Homo sapiens: one gene and its partner. The protein of the gene in region 2 purifies or fractionates together with the protein of the main gene of each other region. This does not show direct contact. Each region holds a gene or a part of one and is shown on either strand. Other genes may lie near its edges.

What was found.
Region 1: the proteins of PRSS33 (region 2) and SP3 purify together in Homo sapiens (affinity purification with mass spectrometry; one large-scale study listed by BioGRID and IntAct). This does not show direct contact.

The regions. Positions count from the first base shown.
Region 1 is NC_000002.12:173,903,054-173,906,411, forward strand, and holds part of SP3 (transcription factor Sp3), read right to left. Parts: 3' UTR 1-3,358. UniProt on the Homo sapiens protein: Transcriptional factor that can act as an activator or repressor depending on isoform and/or post-translational modifications. Binds to GT and GC boxes promoter elements. Competes with SP1 for the GC-box promoters.
Region 2 is NC_000016.10:2,784,478-2,788,843, reverse strand, and holds the start of PRSS33 (serine protease 33 precursor), read left to right. Parts: upstream 1-1,283; 5' UTR 1,284-1,311; exon of another isoform or gene 1,312-1,369; intron 1,370-2,239; 5' UTR 2,240-2,296; coding exon 2,297-2,342; intron 2,343-2,722; coding exon 2,723-2,755; intron 2,756-2,882; coding exon 2,883-3,045; intron 3,046-3,197; coding exon 3,198-3,469; intron 3,470-3,672; coding exon 3,673-3,842; intron 3,843-4,041; coding exon 4,042-4,200; 3' UTR 4,201-4,366. UniProt on the Homo sapiens protein: Serine protease that has amidolytic activity, cleaving its substrates before Arg residues.

The DNA of each region.
Region 1 (3,358 bases), on a different chromosome or scaffold from region 2:
TAGCAGTTTCGTTAATAAATGTTGGCTGACAATTAGGTGGATCAAGGTGACTTAACAAGGTGAATTAACTCATTAATACAACAATAGTTGAAGACAACTATTTTCAAGTGTAGGAAGACTACTGATTCTTCCAGTGCTTACATTTACTAATACATAATATAATATGTGCCAGGCATTATGGAAAGTGGTTTACATGCATTAACTTATTTATCTCCATAATCACTCTATGAAGATGACGCTAGCATCATTCTCATTTTATAGTTAGAGAACAGGCTAAGAGTGGAAAGGTAAAGAGTGAAAGGTCACATAGGTGGTAAGCGGCAGAACTGGGAGACAAGCAAGCCCATGTGTGTCTAAGTCCCAAACCTATGCACTTAATCACTATATTATGCTATGAAAGGTTTCAACTTTACTAAATGAATAAAGATGGAAAAAAACACACAGAGTTACTAGGAGTAGAATTGAGAAAAATGCAATTAACACAACTTAAGAATTTTTAAAGGATCAGGGTGTGAGGAGGACTAAGTAATTGGGTATACATAATTAAAAGAAAGACCCAAACCTATTCTGAGTCCTAACACACAATGAAAATATACGTGACTTGGTGTGACATAGAAACACAGGCTAATGCTGGCAGAAAGTCAGTATTCCACAAGACCAACCACAGATAAAGATACAGCCATCTGTTAAGAGGGCGTCCTGAAACTGTAGAGGGACTTCTAAGGCTTTTAATCAGTTTTCTTGGACACATTCTACCAGTCTTTCAAGGCCCACCCTTTCTGATTCATCCAAGCTATATACTAAGTTCTGCCTTGTCTAAACCTGACTCACTTGGCAGGCAATAAACGTGACTTTTTGTTGGTATTTCCTAGGACGGCGGTCCCCAAACTTTTTGGCACCAGGGACTAGTTTTGAGGAAGACAATTTTTTCATGGATGGGGGTCGGGGGGTGGGGATGGTTGTAGGATGAAACTGCTCTACCTCAGATCATCAGACATTAGATTCTCTTAAGGAGGGCACTACCTAGATCCCTCGCATGCGGGGTTCACAACGGGGTTCGCACTCCTATGAGAATCTAATGTTGTGGCTCATCTGACAGGAGGCAGAGCTCAGGCAGGAATGCTCGCTTACCTCCTGCTGTATGGCCTGGTTCCTCACAGACCAGGGACCAGGACCAGTCTGTGGCCCAGGTGGTTCCTCACAGACCAGGGACCAGTACCGGTCTGTGGCCCAGGGGTTGGGGACCCTTTTCTATAGGATCAAGTCATCAACTCTATGGTGTTTTACGAGAGAATATACTGTACCTCAGTTGTCTTAGTTGGCATTATTTGGTAGCAAGTAACAGCCTTCTGACTTAAGAAAAAACTAAGTTGGGGAGTCTCTCTGTAAGGTTTTAAGGCTATCTTGTGGAACCCCAGGAGGATGAAATGCAGATAGTGAAATGCAAGACACTGGAACAAACACTGCCAAGTTATCAGGAATCAAGAAAGCCATTTTCTTTTTCTTCTGGGGTTGAATGTCATCTTTGCTTTCTCTGCCTCCCATGTATGTTCCAGATGTGACCTCCCAAGACATCAGTTTTCCAATTCCAAATTCTCAGGAGAAATCATCTAATTGGCTCAACTTTGACCAGATGTCCACTCCTTGTCTGATTTCTGAACAGCTCCTCACGGAAGGTGGCAGAAAGTAATGCTCAGAGAAGGGATGTAAGTCGGACAGATATCCTAAAAGGTCACTAAGCCAATACTTCCTGTATTTCGTTGTTGTCGATTAATCGGAGGCTTAGACTTTTTTTTGTGGGGGAAGGATGGAGGGGAGAAATAACTGCATTTCTCTGATGGCCTTTCCTAATCTTAAAAACCACTTCAGTGCTAGACTTTATCTTTCAGTCGCAATGAACCTGAAGATTCTTCGGCTGGTTTTTAGAAATGTTCAAATAGGATAGACTCTTACACAGGGGTGTAATTTCCTCAAGAAAATACACATTTAGGTGCTTCAGTCTTTTCTTCTTATTCCATCCTTTTCTGATAGGGCAGTCACTTCAGACACTTCATCCACTATCACTTTAGGTTCCAACTGTTCTTTTCACATTTTTGCATTAGAAATAAGACTTCTTCTCATTTTGGAAAAATCAATGTATGAACCATAGTCAAACAATGAAAATTCTAAAACACTTCACTACAGAAAAATGGAATCTCCAGAGTTAAGGGGGGAGGAAGGCATTGGAAGGAGGTTACCATTTGAATCTCTACCGTTAAGTCAGGCACTATGCTGAATGCTTATATTTTAATACAACAATCCTATCAACAGGGAGTACTATTGTTAGCCTCTTCATGGATGATGAAAATGAGGTTTTAAGGTAAGAAAACTACCAATATCACACATCTAGTAAGTAGCTTAGCATAGATTCAGAAGCAAGAGTTAAAAGGTGAAAAATGGGGAAAAGGACTGAAGGAGATAGGCCTTCTCAGGATATCATTCTTAACATCAAAAACTGTATCTTAAACGTATTTAATACAATGAAGTGGCATGAATCATGTTACATGACAATATACATGACACCTTTTTAAAAAATATATTCATATCATGAAGACTTTATAACATCAAATAAAAGCCAACATGGGAAAAAAAAAAACCTTGTATACCCTTTAGACTCCAGATTTGGCCAAGCGTGGTGGCTCACGCCTATAATCCCAACACTTTGGGAGGCAGAGGTGGAAGGATCACTTGAGCCCAGGAATTCAAGACCAGCCTAGGCAATATAGTGAGACCCCATCTCTACAAAACAAATTAAAATTAACTGAGCATGGTGGTGTGCACCTGTGGTCCAAGCTACTTAAGAGGCCGAAGTGGGGAGGATTGCTTGAGACCAGTAAGTGGAGTCTGCAGTAAGCCATGATTGCACCACTGCACTGTGTGACAGAGACAGACCCTGTCAAATATAGGGAAAAAACAAACAATAAACCCTGGACTAGAATGAATTTTTCTGGGGAGAAGGTGTAGGATTCCAAAAAGACTAGGAATCACTGACAAAAAAAATTCTTCTCTTTTGCAATTTGGCAGCCCCTCTTAAAAATTTTTCCACTCTGTCCCTCACAAAGTCCCCCATCACCCAACATACCACACTGTACCTTTGCAAACGCCATTTCTGCTGAGTTTCCCAGACTTCATGCAGAATTCTCCCTCTTCTAGGTTTCTACAGTACTTTGTTTCTGCCACTAATATATATATTTACATTATACGCAAATCTGTCTGAACAAGGCAAGGGGCCAATGTTGTTTCTTCAACACTAAATAAAATTATGAGGTGATTTCACAAAAATATCAAATTTGTACCAAAGATATCAATTAATTTGTTT
Region 2 (4,366 bases):
CTGTGGTCCCAACTACTTGGGAAGCTGAGGTGGCAGGATCACTTGAGCCCAGAGGTCAAGGACGCAGGGAGTTGTGATTGTACCACTGCACTCCAGCCTGGGTGACAGAGCAAGACCCTGTCTCTCTCTCCCTTTTTATTTTTTTTTGAGACAGAATCTCACTGCGTCGCCCAGGCTGGAGTGCAGTGGCATAATCTCGGCTCACTGCAACTTCCACCTCCCGGGTTCAAGCAATTCCTGTGCCTCAGCCTCCCGAGTAGCTGAGATTGCAGGCGCCCACCATCAGGCCTGGCTAATTTTTGTATTTTTAGTAGAGACGAGGTTTCACCATGTTGGCCAGGCTCGTCTCAAACCCCTGACCTCAAATGAGCCACCCATCTCGGCTTCCCAAAATGCAGGGATTACAGGCATGAGCCACCATGCTTGGCCAAGACCCTGTCTCTTTAAAAAAAAAAAGAAAGAAAAACAAAAAAAAAAAAAAGGAAAAAAGTACAACTATGGCAGGGCTGCAAAGGAGGCAGGAGGAGGTGGCAGAGCAGAAGGCTGAGGGATAAGAGGAGTTCACTATGCAGAGAGGGACTTGAGAGACTTCTAGGCAGCGAACACTGTGTATGAGCCCAAGAGGGAACTACAGGGCCCTGGACCATCCGGGCCCCGGTCCTCCACGGGCCTCGAGAGAAGGGGAGTTCCTGTCCCCTGACCCCAGCATCTTGCTCTGTCTCGGCCACCCCAAACCAAAGACTGCACTGGTCCCCAAGGTCAAGTCTCCCCCTGCCTCTGGTCAAGTAAGGAGTGCCACCAACTTTGAACCAGTCCCTTTCCACCTCCAGCTGCTCCAGACCCCGGATCTGGAAGGGGGCTGGCCATGCTGGGGTCTCTGGGTGGAGCTGTCTGGCCAGGACTTCCGTCTGAGATGGGATTTCTGGACAGAACAATGGAGCGCAGAAGCTCCAGCAACGTGTGCTCTGCAGGGAGCCCAGGTCAGGTTTGGAGAGGAGTTGCCCCGGATCCTGCAGAGCTTCCCCACCTGACTGCCACCCCTCCCAGCACCTACCCGCACCACTGCTCTCCGCCAGCCCCCACTTCTAGTACCTTGGCGCAAGGCAGGCTTCCTTTGAGAAACCCATTGACCCTTTCCTGCCACCTCTGAAGCTCTGCTCAAAGCATCTTTGTTTGAGGCTGGTCCGGTAAAGCCACAGCCCCGCCCCGGCCCTGTTCATTACTCCTTGGCTGAGCCTCGCGCTCTCCTGGCACTTTAAGCCCCCAGGCCCTCCCTCAACCCCAGTCAGCAGAAGGCGCCAGGCTGTGAGGGTGAGAGCAAGCCAGGGGCTGTGGGGGCTGCAGGGGCAGCCAGTGGGTGAGGATGAGGGTGAGGACGAGGAGGGGTGAAGGATGGGGGAGGGGGTGAGGATGAGGGAAGTGGTGAAGATGAGGGAGGGGAGTGAGGAGGAAGGGGGTGAGGATAGAGGAGGGGGTGAGGATGAGGGAGGGGGTGACGATGGGGGGGTGAAGGATGGAGGAGGGGTGATGAGAGAGGAGTGAGGATGAGGGAGGGGGTGAAGGATGAGGGAGGGGGTGAGGATGAGACAGGGGTGAGGATGAGGGAGGGGGTGAGGATGAGGGAGGGGAGTGAGGAGGAGGGGGCTGAGGATGGAGGAGGGGGTGAGGATAGAGGAGGGGTGAGGATGAGGGAGGGGTGAGGATGAGAGAGGGGTGAGGATGAGAGGTGAGGATGAGGGAGGGGGTGAGGATGAGGGAGGGGAGTGAGGAGGAGCAGGGGTGACGATGGAGGACGGGGTGAGGATAGAGGAGGAGGTGAGGATGAGGGAGGGGGTGAGGATGAGAGAGGGATGAGGATGAGGGAAGGGGTGAGGATAAGGGAGGGGAGTGAGGAGGAGGGGGGTGAGGATGGAGGAGGGAGTGAGGATGAGGGAGGGGGTGAGGATGAGGGAGGGGGTGAGGATGGGGGAGGGGGATGAGGGAGGGAGTGAGGATGACCGAGGGGGGTTAGGCTCCAGGGCTTCTGTCGAGACCAAGGATGCCCAAATATCTGGGTGGTGGGTGCTGCATACCTGGGCCCTGGGCAGAACGAAGGGTATACAGCCTGGGCCACCAGGATAAGTCCAGAACCCACCAGGAGCTGAGGACAGACAGAAGGACCACGGAGGGGGTGACGGGCTGGTGTGAGGATTGGTGCCCCTGGGCCAGGACTCTCCTCTCTTCTCCCTGCTGGCTCCAGACCAGAGTCCAAGCCCTAGGCAGTGCCACCCTTACCCAGCCCAGCCTTGAAGACAGAATGAGAGGGGTTTCCTGTCTCCAGGTCCTGCTCCTTCTGGTGCTGGGTGAGTGGGGACAGGGACTGGGGGTGAGGGCCGCAGACACCTTGGCTCCCAGTTCTCCCATCTCACTGCTCCCTGGGCCGGGCTCCCTGGAGCACTCTTGGGCTTTCTAATCTTGATTCCAAGGGCTCAATCCTCTCTGCCACTGACCTTGACCTCACCACACCTCGATGTGCTTGTCGGTGTCATGCTCATACGCCCTTGCCCCCTGCACCTTCACAGTGCTCTGGGGAGGGTTAAATAAGATAACAGACGGCACGAAAGCCTGGCGCAATGTCAGGGCAACATTGTTTCACCCTCCTTCCTCATCTCTGGCCTCCCCTCCAACTCCGTTATTTGACACCAAATCTATAATCTGGTCCCTTCCCTGCTTCCTCCTCCAGGAGCTGCTGGGACTCAGGGAAGGAAGTCTGCAGGTGAGGAAGCCTCGGAGTCCACCCGAGTCAGCCCCTCCTGGACCTCGGCCCCGTGTCTCCCCACCAACACCTGCCTCCCAGGCCCCAGGTCCTCAGCCAACCCTCACCGCCCCTGGTCCTTTTCTAGCCTGCGGGCAGCCCCGCATGTCCAGTCGGATCGTTGGGGGCCGGGATGGCCGGGACGGAGAGTGGCCGTGGCAGGCGAGCATCCAGCATCGTGGGGCACACGTGTGCGGGGGGTCGCTCATCGCCCCCCAGTGGGTGCTGACAGCGGCGCACTGCTTCCCCAGGTCAGCGCTCACCGAGGGCCCAGGCGGGGTGTGCAAGGAAGGCAAGGCCCGCAGAGGACCGGGCGTGGCCTGGCAGAGGCGTTGGGGTCGAGGCGGGCTGGAGGGGGTCGAGGACCCGGTGCTGGAAGTAGTCCCCCGCTCCTGTCCTGCAGGAGGGCACTGCCAGCTGAGTACCGCGTGCGCCTGGGGGCGCTGCGTCTGGGCTCCACCTCGCCCCGCACGCTCTCGGTGCCCGTGCGACGGGTGCTGCTGCCCCCGGACTACTCCGAGGACGGGGCCCGCGGCGACCTGGCACTGCTGCAGCTGCGTCGCCCGGTGCCCCTGAGCGCTCGCGTCCAACCCGTCTGCCTGCCCGTGCCCGGCGCCCGCCCGCCGCCCGGCACACCATGCCGGGTCACCGGCTGGGGCAGCCTCCGCCCAGGAGGTAAGGCAGGAGGGCGGGGCTCCGAGGCATCCGGGAGCCCCCACGTCCTCCTCCATCTGACTGGAAATCCCAGCCCCTCACTGCCCCAATCCAGGACCCAGCGCGGCTTCTAGGGAACAAAACCTCCTCTCACTCAGAGCTCAGCTTCTCCCACTGGCCCCCGCTCCACGCCTTCCTCTCAGAGGTCCCTCCTCTTCCCCCAGTGCCCCTCCCAGAGTGGCGACCGCTACAAGGAGTAAGGGTGCCGCTGCTGGACTCGCGCACCTGCGACGGCCTCTACCACGTGGGCGCGGACGTGCCCCAGGCTGAGCGCATTGTGCTGCCTGGGAGTCTGTGTGCCGGCTACCCCCAGGGCCACAAGGACGCCTGCCAGGTGTGCACCCAGCCTCCCCAGCCTCCGGAGTCCCCTCCCTGTGCCCAGCACCCTCCCTCCCTGAACTCCAGGACCCAGGACATCCCAACTCAGGCTCAGGATCCTGGCCTCCAACCTAGAGGCACCACGCCAGGGGTCTGGAACCCTGAGAACTGAAGTCCTGGGAGGGCTGGGACTTAGGCTCCTCTTTCTCCTGCAGGGTGATTCTGGGGGACCTCTGACCTGCCTGCAGTCTGGGAGCTGGGTCCTGGTGGGCGTGGTGAGCTGGGGCAAGGGTTGTGCCCTGCCCAACCGTCCAGGGGTCTACACCAGTGTGGCCACATATAGCCCCTGGATTCAGGCTCGCGTCAGCTTCTAATGCTAGCCGGTGAGGCTGACCTGGAGCCAGCTGCTGGGGTCCCTCAGCCTCCTGGTTCATCCAGGCACCTGCCTATACCCCACATCCCTTCTGCCTCGAGGCCAAGATGCCTAAAAAAGCTAAAGGCCACCCCACCCCCCACCCACCACCTCCTGCCTCCTCTCCT